2 linked regions of the Homo sapiens genome follow. The protein of the gene in region 2 interacts with the protein of the main gene of each other region in a biochemical or structural test. Each region holds a gene or a part of one and is shown on either strand. Other genes may lie near its edges.

What was found. The genes of interacting proteins can lie anywhere in the genome.
Region 1: the proteins of FBLN2 (region 2) and NID1 form a complex in vitro, tested with the Homo sapiens proteins (one study listed by BioGRID).

The regions. Positions count from the first base shown.
Region 1 is NC_000001.11:236,041,055-236,048,101, reverse strand, and holds part of NID1 (nidogen-1 precursor), read left to right. Parts: intron 1-2,418; coding exon 2,419-2,645; intron 2,646-5,809; coding exon 5,810-6,192; intron 6,193-7,047. UniProt on the Homo sapiens protein: Sulfated glycoprotein widely distributed in basement membranes and tightly associated with laminin. Also binds to collagen IV and perlecan. It probably has a role in cell-extracellular matrix interactions.
Region 2 is NC_000003.12:13,636,078-13,638,904, forward strand, and holds the end of FBLN2 (fibulin-2 isoform a precursor), read left to right. Parts: intron 1-367; coding exon 368-491; intron 492-1,484; coding exon 1,485-1,842; 3' UTR 1,843-2,327; downstream 2,328-2,827. UniProt on the Homo sapiens protein: Its binding to fibronectin and some other ligands is calcium dependent. May act as an adapter that mediates the interaction between FBN1 and ELN.

The DNA.
Region 1 (7,047 bases), on a different chromosome or scaffold from region 2:
TCAGCCTCCCAAAGTGCTGGGATTACAGGCGTGAGCCACCATGCCCGGCCTTTTTTTTTTTTTTTTTTTTTTTTTTGAGATGGAGTCTTGCTCTGTTGCCCAGGCTGGAGTACAGTGGCACAATCTCAGCTCTCTGCAGCCTCCACCTCCCAGGTTCAAGCAATTATTGTGCCTCAGCCTCCCGAGTAGCTGGGATTACAGGCATGGGCCACCACACTGGCTAATTTTTGTATTTTTAGTAGAGATGGGGTTTCACCACATTGGCCAGGCTGGTCTCCAACTGCTGACCTCAAATGATCCACCCACCTCAGCCTCCCAAAGTGCTGGGATTACAGGTGTGTGCCACCGAGCCCGGCTGGAAGGATAGTTTCTGACTAGAGAAATTATTAATATGAAACGATAGGTTAAAATAACAAAGTACTCCTGAGGGATGCAAAGATAGAAAGGTAAAGCCCAGACTCTAGTTGGGGAGACAAGAATCATTTGGACCATGTGAGTGGTTCAAAACCCAAGTATTGTCATAACCCAGGGTTGGCCTCTCCGTGGGCGCAGTCATCAGGGACGGCTGGAAGGACCAGGCTGTAGAGCACGGACTTGCCCTTGAAGGAAGCAGGGTCTTTGAGTAGGTCAGGAACTCGTTGTTAGACCTGAAGTGACTTTTTAGGACAGGCCTCGATTTTCCCTTGGAAAAATAATTTCTCTCTACCATAACTTCACCTTTATAGGAAAATGAGGAAGAAAGAAACTTGAAGGGTCCCAAAGCACTTCATATAAATGGGAGGTATTTCAGGCTGGTGGTTCCTAAAGTGTGTACCACAAAACACCAGTCCTACAAGATACACCTTGAGGAAAAGGCCTTCTAGTTTGGGAAATGCTAAAACTATATCTCCCTCTTGGTGATTCACCCTGTTCACTCTGAAAAGTCCTGCAGTCAGGAAACTTGCAACTTGCCTAATACTACTTTTTTTGTTTTTGTTTTTGTTTTTGTTTTGAGACAGAGTCTTGCTCTGTCACCCAGGCTGGAGTGCAGTGGTGCCATCTTGGCTCATTGCAATCTCCACCTCCTGGGTTCAAGTGATTCTCCTGCCTCAGCCTCCCAGGTAGCTGGGACTAAGGGCGTGAGCCACCATTCCAGCCTTGCCGAATATTGTTTAACTGAGCAGTCTCCAAACCTGTGACCATACCTCTTCCCTTCCCCCGCTCCAAAAAAGATGCATTACATCCCACAGAGCACACTTTGGGAAAGTCTGTTAGGGGCCTGCATGACACATTTTGCTTGCCAACTGTTATCTGTCTGAGTGCCAAACTTGAAAACAGCTTAAATGTTAAGTGTCTCAGCTGCCTCCCTTTCACTTGGGTGATAAATGCCTAACCCATTGGTATGGATCCCTTGCTTGCCTCTTGGGCCTAATCTGTTCCACCTCCGCATACCCTTTGCAGCCGCTATACCAAATTACATGTAATTCCCTGACCTTGCCCTTGCTCTTTTTTTTTTATCCGCAGTATCTTGCACAGGCTGTCCTCTCTGTTTGGGACGTCCTCTCCCTGACCCCCCTACAGGTGGCAGCTTCCTCCTGCTTGTTCATTCAGACTGGGCCCTCCCGTGAGGCCTTGACCAACCACAGCCTCCTGGCATGGGATGCACTCCCACCGCTCCTGGCATGGGACGCTTCCTCTTACGGCTCCTGCAGCGCTTTGCAAATGTTTCGATTACAGAATCCAACCTCAGGTTTTGCAATGTTTTCTTCACATGTCAGCCTTCCCAAAGTGCTGGGATTACAGGCATGAGCCACCGCGCCCGGCATGTGCCTGCTCTTTCATACGTGACCTCATGTAGTCTTCCTCATTTCTGTGAAGGAGGTGGTTTTATCTCCATTTTACAGATGCAAACATCGAGGCTTAGGGAACTCAAGTATCACGCCCAAGTCACATAATAATGAGTAGAGCAAAGATTTGGATCCAGGTCTGTTTTCTCCCAAATCTCATGTTTTGTTTTGTTTTTTCTACTGTACGGTGCTTGGGTTCAATAAATGTTTGTTAAACGATGAATGCGGTTGAATATGTTAACAGCCATGGAAACAAAGTCTTTGGGTAAGAATTTCCTAAACTGCGTGAGATTTTAGGCCACCATCTGGAGGTACCATCTGTATAATTTTTGGTTAACCTTAGGGCCACAGTTATGCAGAAGATATTTATGAATTAATCAGAAAATGTCATGTTGACATAGCCTTAGGGATATTTCAGTGGAACTATCCCAGAATCCTAGGTTCTTGCTACAAAAGTCCTTCTTTTAGAATAAGGTGAGAATATTGCCATCGCTCTATAGCACTGTACGCTTTATAGATAGTCTGGCGAATAACACATTTTAAAATCTATCGATATTTTTCCGAGTAACTGAATTTTAACTCATCTTCACAGAGAAACACGTTCCAGGCTGTTCTAGCCTCCTCTGATTCCAGCTCCTATGCCATTTTCCTTTATCCTGAGGATGGTCTGCAGTTCCATACGACATTCTCAAAGAAGGAAAACAACCAAGTTCCTGCCGTGGTTGCATTCAGTCAAGGTTCAGTGGGATTCTTATGGAAGAGCAACGGAGCTTATAACATATTTGCTAATGACAGGGAATCAGTTGAAAATTTGGCCAAGTATGCTTTCTTTGTTCTTCAGTAGATTCTCCTCTTAATATTTTTTAATGTGGATAATGTAATGTGTATTATAGATCATTACCTAAAAATGTTCCTATGGATTTAAGTTTTGCATATAGTTTTTATATTATGAGATACTCTTTTTCTGATGAACTTAAGGAAATGTATTTTTAGAATGAACAGATATCCTATTTTTTAGATATCATCCTCATTTAAAATAGTTCTTTTTTTTTTTTTTTTTTTTTTTTTTGAGACAGAGCCTTACTCTGTTGCCCAAGCTGGAAGGCTGGAGTGCAATGGCACAATCTCGACTCACTGCAACCTCTGCCTCCCAGGTTCAAGTGATTCTCTCGCCTCAGCTTCCCAAGTAGCTGGGATTACAGGTGTGTGCCACCATGCCCAGCTAATTCTTGTATTTTTAGTAGAGACGGGGTTTCACCATGTTGGCCAGGCTGGTCTTGAACTCCTGCCCTCGGGTGATCTGCCCACCTCAGCCTCCCAAAGTGCTGGGATTACAGGCATGAAGTGCCGCGCCCGGCCTTAAGACAGTTTTTACCATTTTGTCTATAAACACTGTTAGAAATAAGGGTTATTCAAACCTATCTCCTTTGATCTCAAGGCTGAGAAAACCTTTTCCTTCACATTGACTAGGGGGAATATTCTTACAACAGAAATGGTGCTCTCAGGTTATGTTGTAGAATTTGACAAAAGAGGGAAAAGCCCAAATTGGATTTTGAAGATTAAAACCTTTCCTCTCCCATTATTCTTTAAAAACCAAGAGTGAATCCCCTAAAACCACCTTTTAATTTTATATCTTCAAATCTAGCTTGAATTCCTCTGCCCTTCACTTAGTGATGTGCTGGTAAATGCTTAACAACTGGTTTTATGAGGGCAGAGGAACCTGATTTATAGCGTTTGCCTGTTTCTGTGATGTAAATACTCCTACGATGGCCAAGTTCAAGTTATTAACGTCATGTCACTCATTGAAGAGTTCAGAAAACATGCACCATTATATATATTCTCACCATAAAGATAAAATAGGTTTAATATATATAATTTCAAGAGCATGGACAGTAGCAAAAGGATTAGAATATGATGAGTTTTGAATATTTTTTCCTTTTAAAAAATATAACTTGTTTAATTGGAAGTTCATGTAATTTAATTGTTTAGAATGGCTGTGTTTAATAACTGGCTTGCAAAATTCCTAAAACTTTAACAGCCAGCTCTCACAAGCTAGTCCATATAAGCTCCCACACACCACTGTCTTTACTTGAATCCCAGGCAGACAAATTGATTAGACATCCTATTTATGCAGGACTTTTGTGATTTATCATCCCCACCCCACCCCATTGTTTTGCTCAGTATTTTCCACTGAGTAATGTATGTCCCCTCTGTCCACCGTATAATATAATTATTTCATGTAATTTCTGATAGGAGCACTTCCAATCACAGACACAGAAGAATGGTAAAAATGGTGGAGGAAGAAGTAGAGATTAGGGATATTCTACTATATTTTATAGTTATAAAATGCTTTTGGATTTTGTATCTCATTTGCTTTTCACCATATCCTTTAAGCACCAAAGGTAAACTGAGACTAGTCCAAGATCTCACAGCCAATGGAGTTGGGATTTCTTTTTTTGTTGTTTTTGTTGTTGTTTTGAGATGGAGTCTTGCTCTGTCGCCCAGGCTGGAGTGCAGTGGCACGATCTTGGCTCACTGCAAGCTCTGCCTCCCGGGTTCACGCCATTCTCCTGCTTCAGCGTCCCGAGCAGCTGGGACTACAGGCGCCCACCACCACGCCCAGCTAATTTTTTGTATTTTTAGTAGAGACGGGGTTTCACCATGTTAGCCAGGATGGTCTCGATCTCCTGACCTCATGATCTGCCCTCCTCAGCCCCCCAAAGTGCTGGGATTACAGGTGTGAGCCACCGCGCCCGGCCCTGGAGTTGGGATTTCTAAAAAACCACGTCTGCAATGTTTTCACTCACACTTCTGACACCAAATGGGTGGGGTTTTTTTTCCCACACCAACCAATTCTCTGCACACCAGCCGGGTGTCCTACACTTCAGTTCAATTCTAGCACTGGCGTTACTGCAGACCCCACAGGTTAAGGGCTCAGTCCCACAGGACTGCCCCCACTTCAGATGCCAGTCCCAAGTCCTGTGTTTCCACCTGTACTTCTGACCAACCAGCTATAAATGGAGGGTTTCCATGGCATGCTCCTCAGATTTGATAATTTGCTAGAATGGCTCACATAACACAGAAAAATGCTTCACTATTACCAGTTCATTCTAAAGGATACAACTCTGGAACAACCAAATGGAAGAGAGGCATAGGACAAGGTATGGGTAAGGGGGCAGGGTTTCTATGCCGTCTCTGAGTACACCAGCCTTCCCGCACCTTGATGTGTTCAACCCAGAAGCTCTCTGAACCCCATCATTTTAGGGTTTTTATGGTGGTGTTATTTCATAGGCACAGTTGATTAAATCACTGATCCTTGGTGATTGACTCAATCTCCAGCCCATCTCCCCTCCCTGGAGGCAGTGGGGAAAGCTGGACATTCCAACCTTCTAATCATGCCTTGGTCTTTCTGGCCACCAGCCCCCATCCTGAAACTGTCTAGGAGCTCCCAGCCATCAGTCAACTCATTAGCCTACAAAAGACACTCTTATCACTTCAGAAATTCCAAAGGCTGTAGGAGCTCTTGTTTCAGAATGTGAGGACAGAGACCAAACATGTATTTTCAATTGTATCATACCATGTCATGGAAAGAGATAGTGGAGAGCATGAATGACTTCAGTCCTAAAGCCACTGTCAGTCCTATGAGCCACCTTAGCTCATAAGGTAGAGCATGTAACCAGCAATTAGGATGAGCAAGTTGAATTTTAAGTCCTGATAGTGTCCCTGGAGCACACTTCTGGAATGGCTGGGACTGAGCTTGTGCTAGTATTGTGCCCATTTGGACACAGTCTCACCAGACAGCCCTAGACTGCCTCAGCCACATGACGCCCAGACATGACGGCCAGTGCCCTTCCACTCTCCAGTCCTAGCTGCAGGTGATGGCTTGCAGACCAACACAGATCCTCAGGGCTCCCTCTGCTTGGGTAGTGGTGGCTGTTGGTGGGTTGCTGGCCTGTTTCTAAGAAGCCTGTCCTTCCTCCTAGGAGTAGTAACTCTGGGCAGCAGGGTGTCTGGGTGTTTGAGATTGGGAGTCCAGCCACCACCAATGGCGTGGTGCCTGCAGACGTGATCCTCGGAACTGAAGATGGGGCAGAGTATGATGATGAGGATGAAGATTATGACCTGGCGACCACTCGTCTGGGCCTGGAGGATGTGGGCACCACGCCCTTCTCCTACAAGGCTCTGAGAAGGGGAGGTGCTGACACATACAGTGTGCCCAGCGTCCTCTCCCCGCGCCGGGCAGCTACCGAAAGGCCCCTTGGACCTCCCACAGAGAGAACCAGGTCTTTCCAGTTGGCAGTGGAGACTTTTCACCAGCAGCACCCTCAGGTCATAGATGTGGATGAAGTTGAGGAAACAGGAGTTGGTAAGACCATTTAAGTTGCAGTTGGTAACGATCTTGGATGTGTGGGCTTCCAGACAGGCGTACTGCTGGGGAGATGTCAGTTGTGAGCATTACATGGTGGTTTGTAAAGATAAGAGCTTGGGAAAGTAGAGGCTGAACTCTCACAGCCGTGGAGCCTTGGTGTTATATGCCCAGTGGCTTCAGAGATGCTCAGTGATCTTTTGGGATTAGGACCATGGTTTTGGAGACTGTTGAGTGTGTCTTCTTTCAAGTTTCCTAGTATTCCGTTCTGTCTGTTTTAAAGAGAAAACGTCCGTTAGAATTGTTTTGAAAGTCAGATTTTCTTGTGATTTCTCAGATCAGAAATGTATTCATCCACCTGAAAAAACATTTTAGAAGTTCTTTTGGCTGTCTATGAAGCTTATCTTTGACATTTATTTCCTCTTGGTTTTGGAATTAGAATTGTTGATTATTTTTCTTCCCAGGTCCCGTCAGTTTCAGAGTTGGTTTGTGAAGATTAAAAAATATATATATATCAAAGTAGATACTCTTTAAAAAAAAATAGGGTCGGGGGTGGTGGCTCACACCTGTAATCCCAGCACTTTGGGAGGCCGAGGCAGGTGGATCACAAGCTCAAGAGATTGAGACCATCCTGGCCAACATGGTGAAACCCCATCTCTACTAAAAATACAAAAATTAGCTGGGCGTGGTGACACACGCCTGTAGTCCTAGCTACTTGGGAGGCTGAGGCAGGAGGATTGCTTGAACCTGGGAGGCAGAGGTTGCAGTGAGCCGAGATCATGCCACTGCACTCCAGCCTGGCAACAGAGTGAGTCTCTGCCTCGAAAAGAAAAAAAAAGTTTTACAGTACATTTT
Region 2 (2,827 bases):
GGGTCAGGCTATTGGGGCAGCCCAAGGATGTCCAGCAGGACTGTGGCCTCTGTGGAAGAGAAGGAGCTTAGAGAGGCCAGAGAGCCTTGCACTGTGTGGCTTGGCATCCAGGGGAGGGAGCTGGGCTTTATTCTGGAGCGCGAGAAGCCTTGGGAGGGCATGACATGAGGTGATTGACACTTTAGAGCCAGGCCCCCTGCTGCGGGGTGCCGAGCAGGTGAGATGGGGCATGTGTGTGCAGGGAGGCACGCGGGCTATTCTCACAGGTCCGGCTGCCGTGGGGCCCAGGCCTTTCATGCAGGCTGGGGAGTTTCAGGCTGGGTCCCCCAGCTGTGGGGACCCTGCCATTGCCCCTCTTCTCCCCCAGACGTGGATGAGTGTGCACTGGGTACCCACAACTGTTCCGAGGCTGAGACCTGCCACAACATCCAGGGTAGCTTCCGCTGCCTGCGCTTCGAGTGTCCTCCCAACTATGTCCAAGTCTCCAAAACGTGAGTGTCCCCACCCCAGTCCCAGTCCCAGGGAGCCTGTCCTGGTCCTGTACTATCCAGGGAGAGGCTGAGAGATGGGCGCCTGCCTTGATCACCTCCCTCTCGTCCCAGCCCCTGACTGCTGGGTCTGTGGGCTAGGTGACCAAAACAAATATAAGTAGCTTTTAGAGAGTTCAGGGTTGAGAGAAGGAAGGGGAAAAGACACACAGAAAACACCAGCCCTCTTCCTCATACACACACATGGTAGTTACTGCTGTGTGACCAGTTATCCCAACCAACATTTAGCACCAGAATACAACAGATACTTACTCTTTGTCACGCAGTGTCTGAGGGCTAGGAGCCTGGGAGTGGTGTAGCTAGGTGGTCTGGCTCAGGATCTCAGGGGCTGCCTGTCCGGGGTGCGGGATCCTGCCACTGCTCATGGGGCTCTGGGCAGGAGGCCTCAGCTCCGCATCACATGAGCCCCTCCACAAGGCTGCTTGTGACATGCCACTCCCCAGCTCAGTGTATCAGAAGTGCCAGCGGCAGCCCCTTAACCTCACTTAACCTCAGAACTGACAGACCGCTACTCTGCCACCAGCCACACGGCCCGGCACTTGGGAGGGACCCTGGGAGGGACACTGGGTGCACTGGGAAGAAGGGAGAAGGAGGAGGAAGGGAAGGGGAGAGGGAAAAGGAAGGAGAAAGGAAGAATGGGAGGATGGCAGGAGGGAGGAAGAAAGGAGCATGGGGACAGGTAAGAGCTGTTAACGAGCCTGGCCAGTGCCATGCTAAACTCACCCATTCCAGTGAGCCGGTGAAGGTTTTATTAACCTCATCTCGCAGGCAAGGAAACTGAGACCCAGGGGACGTAAGGGGACTTGCCTGAGGCTTCCCGGCCATTAGGGAGAGAGCTGGCCCTTGATCCTGCCGCTGAGCTGTGCCATCTGTGTCCCCGTCTGGGGATGAGGGGGGTGGGCGAGCTGTGGGTGACCCGGCCTATCCTCCCTGCAGGAAGTGCGAGCGCACCACGTGCCATGACTTCCTGGAGTGCCAGAACTCGCCAGCGCGCATCACGCACTACCAGCTCAACTTCCAGACGGGCCTCCTGGTGCCTGCGCATATCTTCCGCATTGGCCCCGCGCCAGCCTTCACGGGGGACACCATCGCCCTGAACATCATCAAGGGCAATGAGGAGGGCTACTTTGGCACGCGCAGGCTCAATGCCTACACGGGTGTGGTCTACCTGCAGCGGGCCGTGCTGGAGCCCCGGGACTTTGCCCTGGACGTGGAGATGAAGCTCTGGAGGCAGGGCTCCGTCACCACCTTCCTGGCCAAGATGCACATCTTCTTCACCACCTTTGCCCTGTGAGGTGCCAGCACGGGCCACCTGCGGGTGTGGCGCAGCCCAGGGCTCACACTGCGTGGGAGGGACTGGGTCACTATTGTGGTTTTTACTATAACTTTGTAAATTAACTTAATTTTGCTGACTTGACTCCTGTGGCTTCTGGACCCCTCCTCTGCCCCGCAGGAGGAAGTTCCACGGCAGGTGGTGCGTTCCCACGCAGGCACCAAGTGGAAGCTTGCACGGTGGGCCACGGCCGTGGCGGGTGCCCTGTGGGTGAGGCTGGGTGATGACCTGAGGACCAGAGACACGCGACCATGTTGGGGCTCTTGGACTCCTCTGGATGACCCGTCCCCAAAGTTGACATTCCATTTCATGTTCCACTGTGATTAATTCTTTTCTTTTTTAAAAAATCATTTTAAAGTTTTTTGTTTAACTATAAAGTAGTACATGTACATTATATAAAAAAAAGTTCAACTAGTATGAAAGGGTTATAAAGTAACAGAGGAAAACGCCTCTTGGTCCCTTTACTTTTGTAAAGTGTTCAGAGTTTGACAACGTTGTCCAGATGTCACAGGGCTCTATGGCCTGGCCAGCATGTCAATTCATTGATGAAGACCTTGATGTCCTTCTCAACGAGCCCCGAACCTGAAGTTCACTTTGGGATGAGGGCACCCCAGTGTGATCAGTCACTGACCAGGCTCTTTATTCTGCTTTTACCACTTCAGCTTTCCCTCCTCCTTCCTCCTCCCTCCTCCCTCCTCTGCCTTCCCCCCATGAAGACCTCCACTGATGGCCTGTCACTTGGATGTTGTCCAGAACTTGTCCTGGCCCCTGTTGCTGAGCTGTCAGGTCAGGCAGTAGACCTGGGCAGGAGCCTGAAGGAACCTGGGAAACTGAGGCCCTGAGAGCGGAAGCGATGTGCCCCCAGCCCACAGCGAGCATCAGAGCAGGTGTCGGGACCCAGCTCTGATGACCCTGCTCGGGCTCCGTGGGTCTAGAGTTAAATATA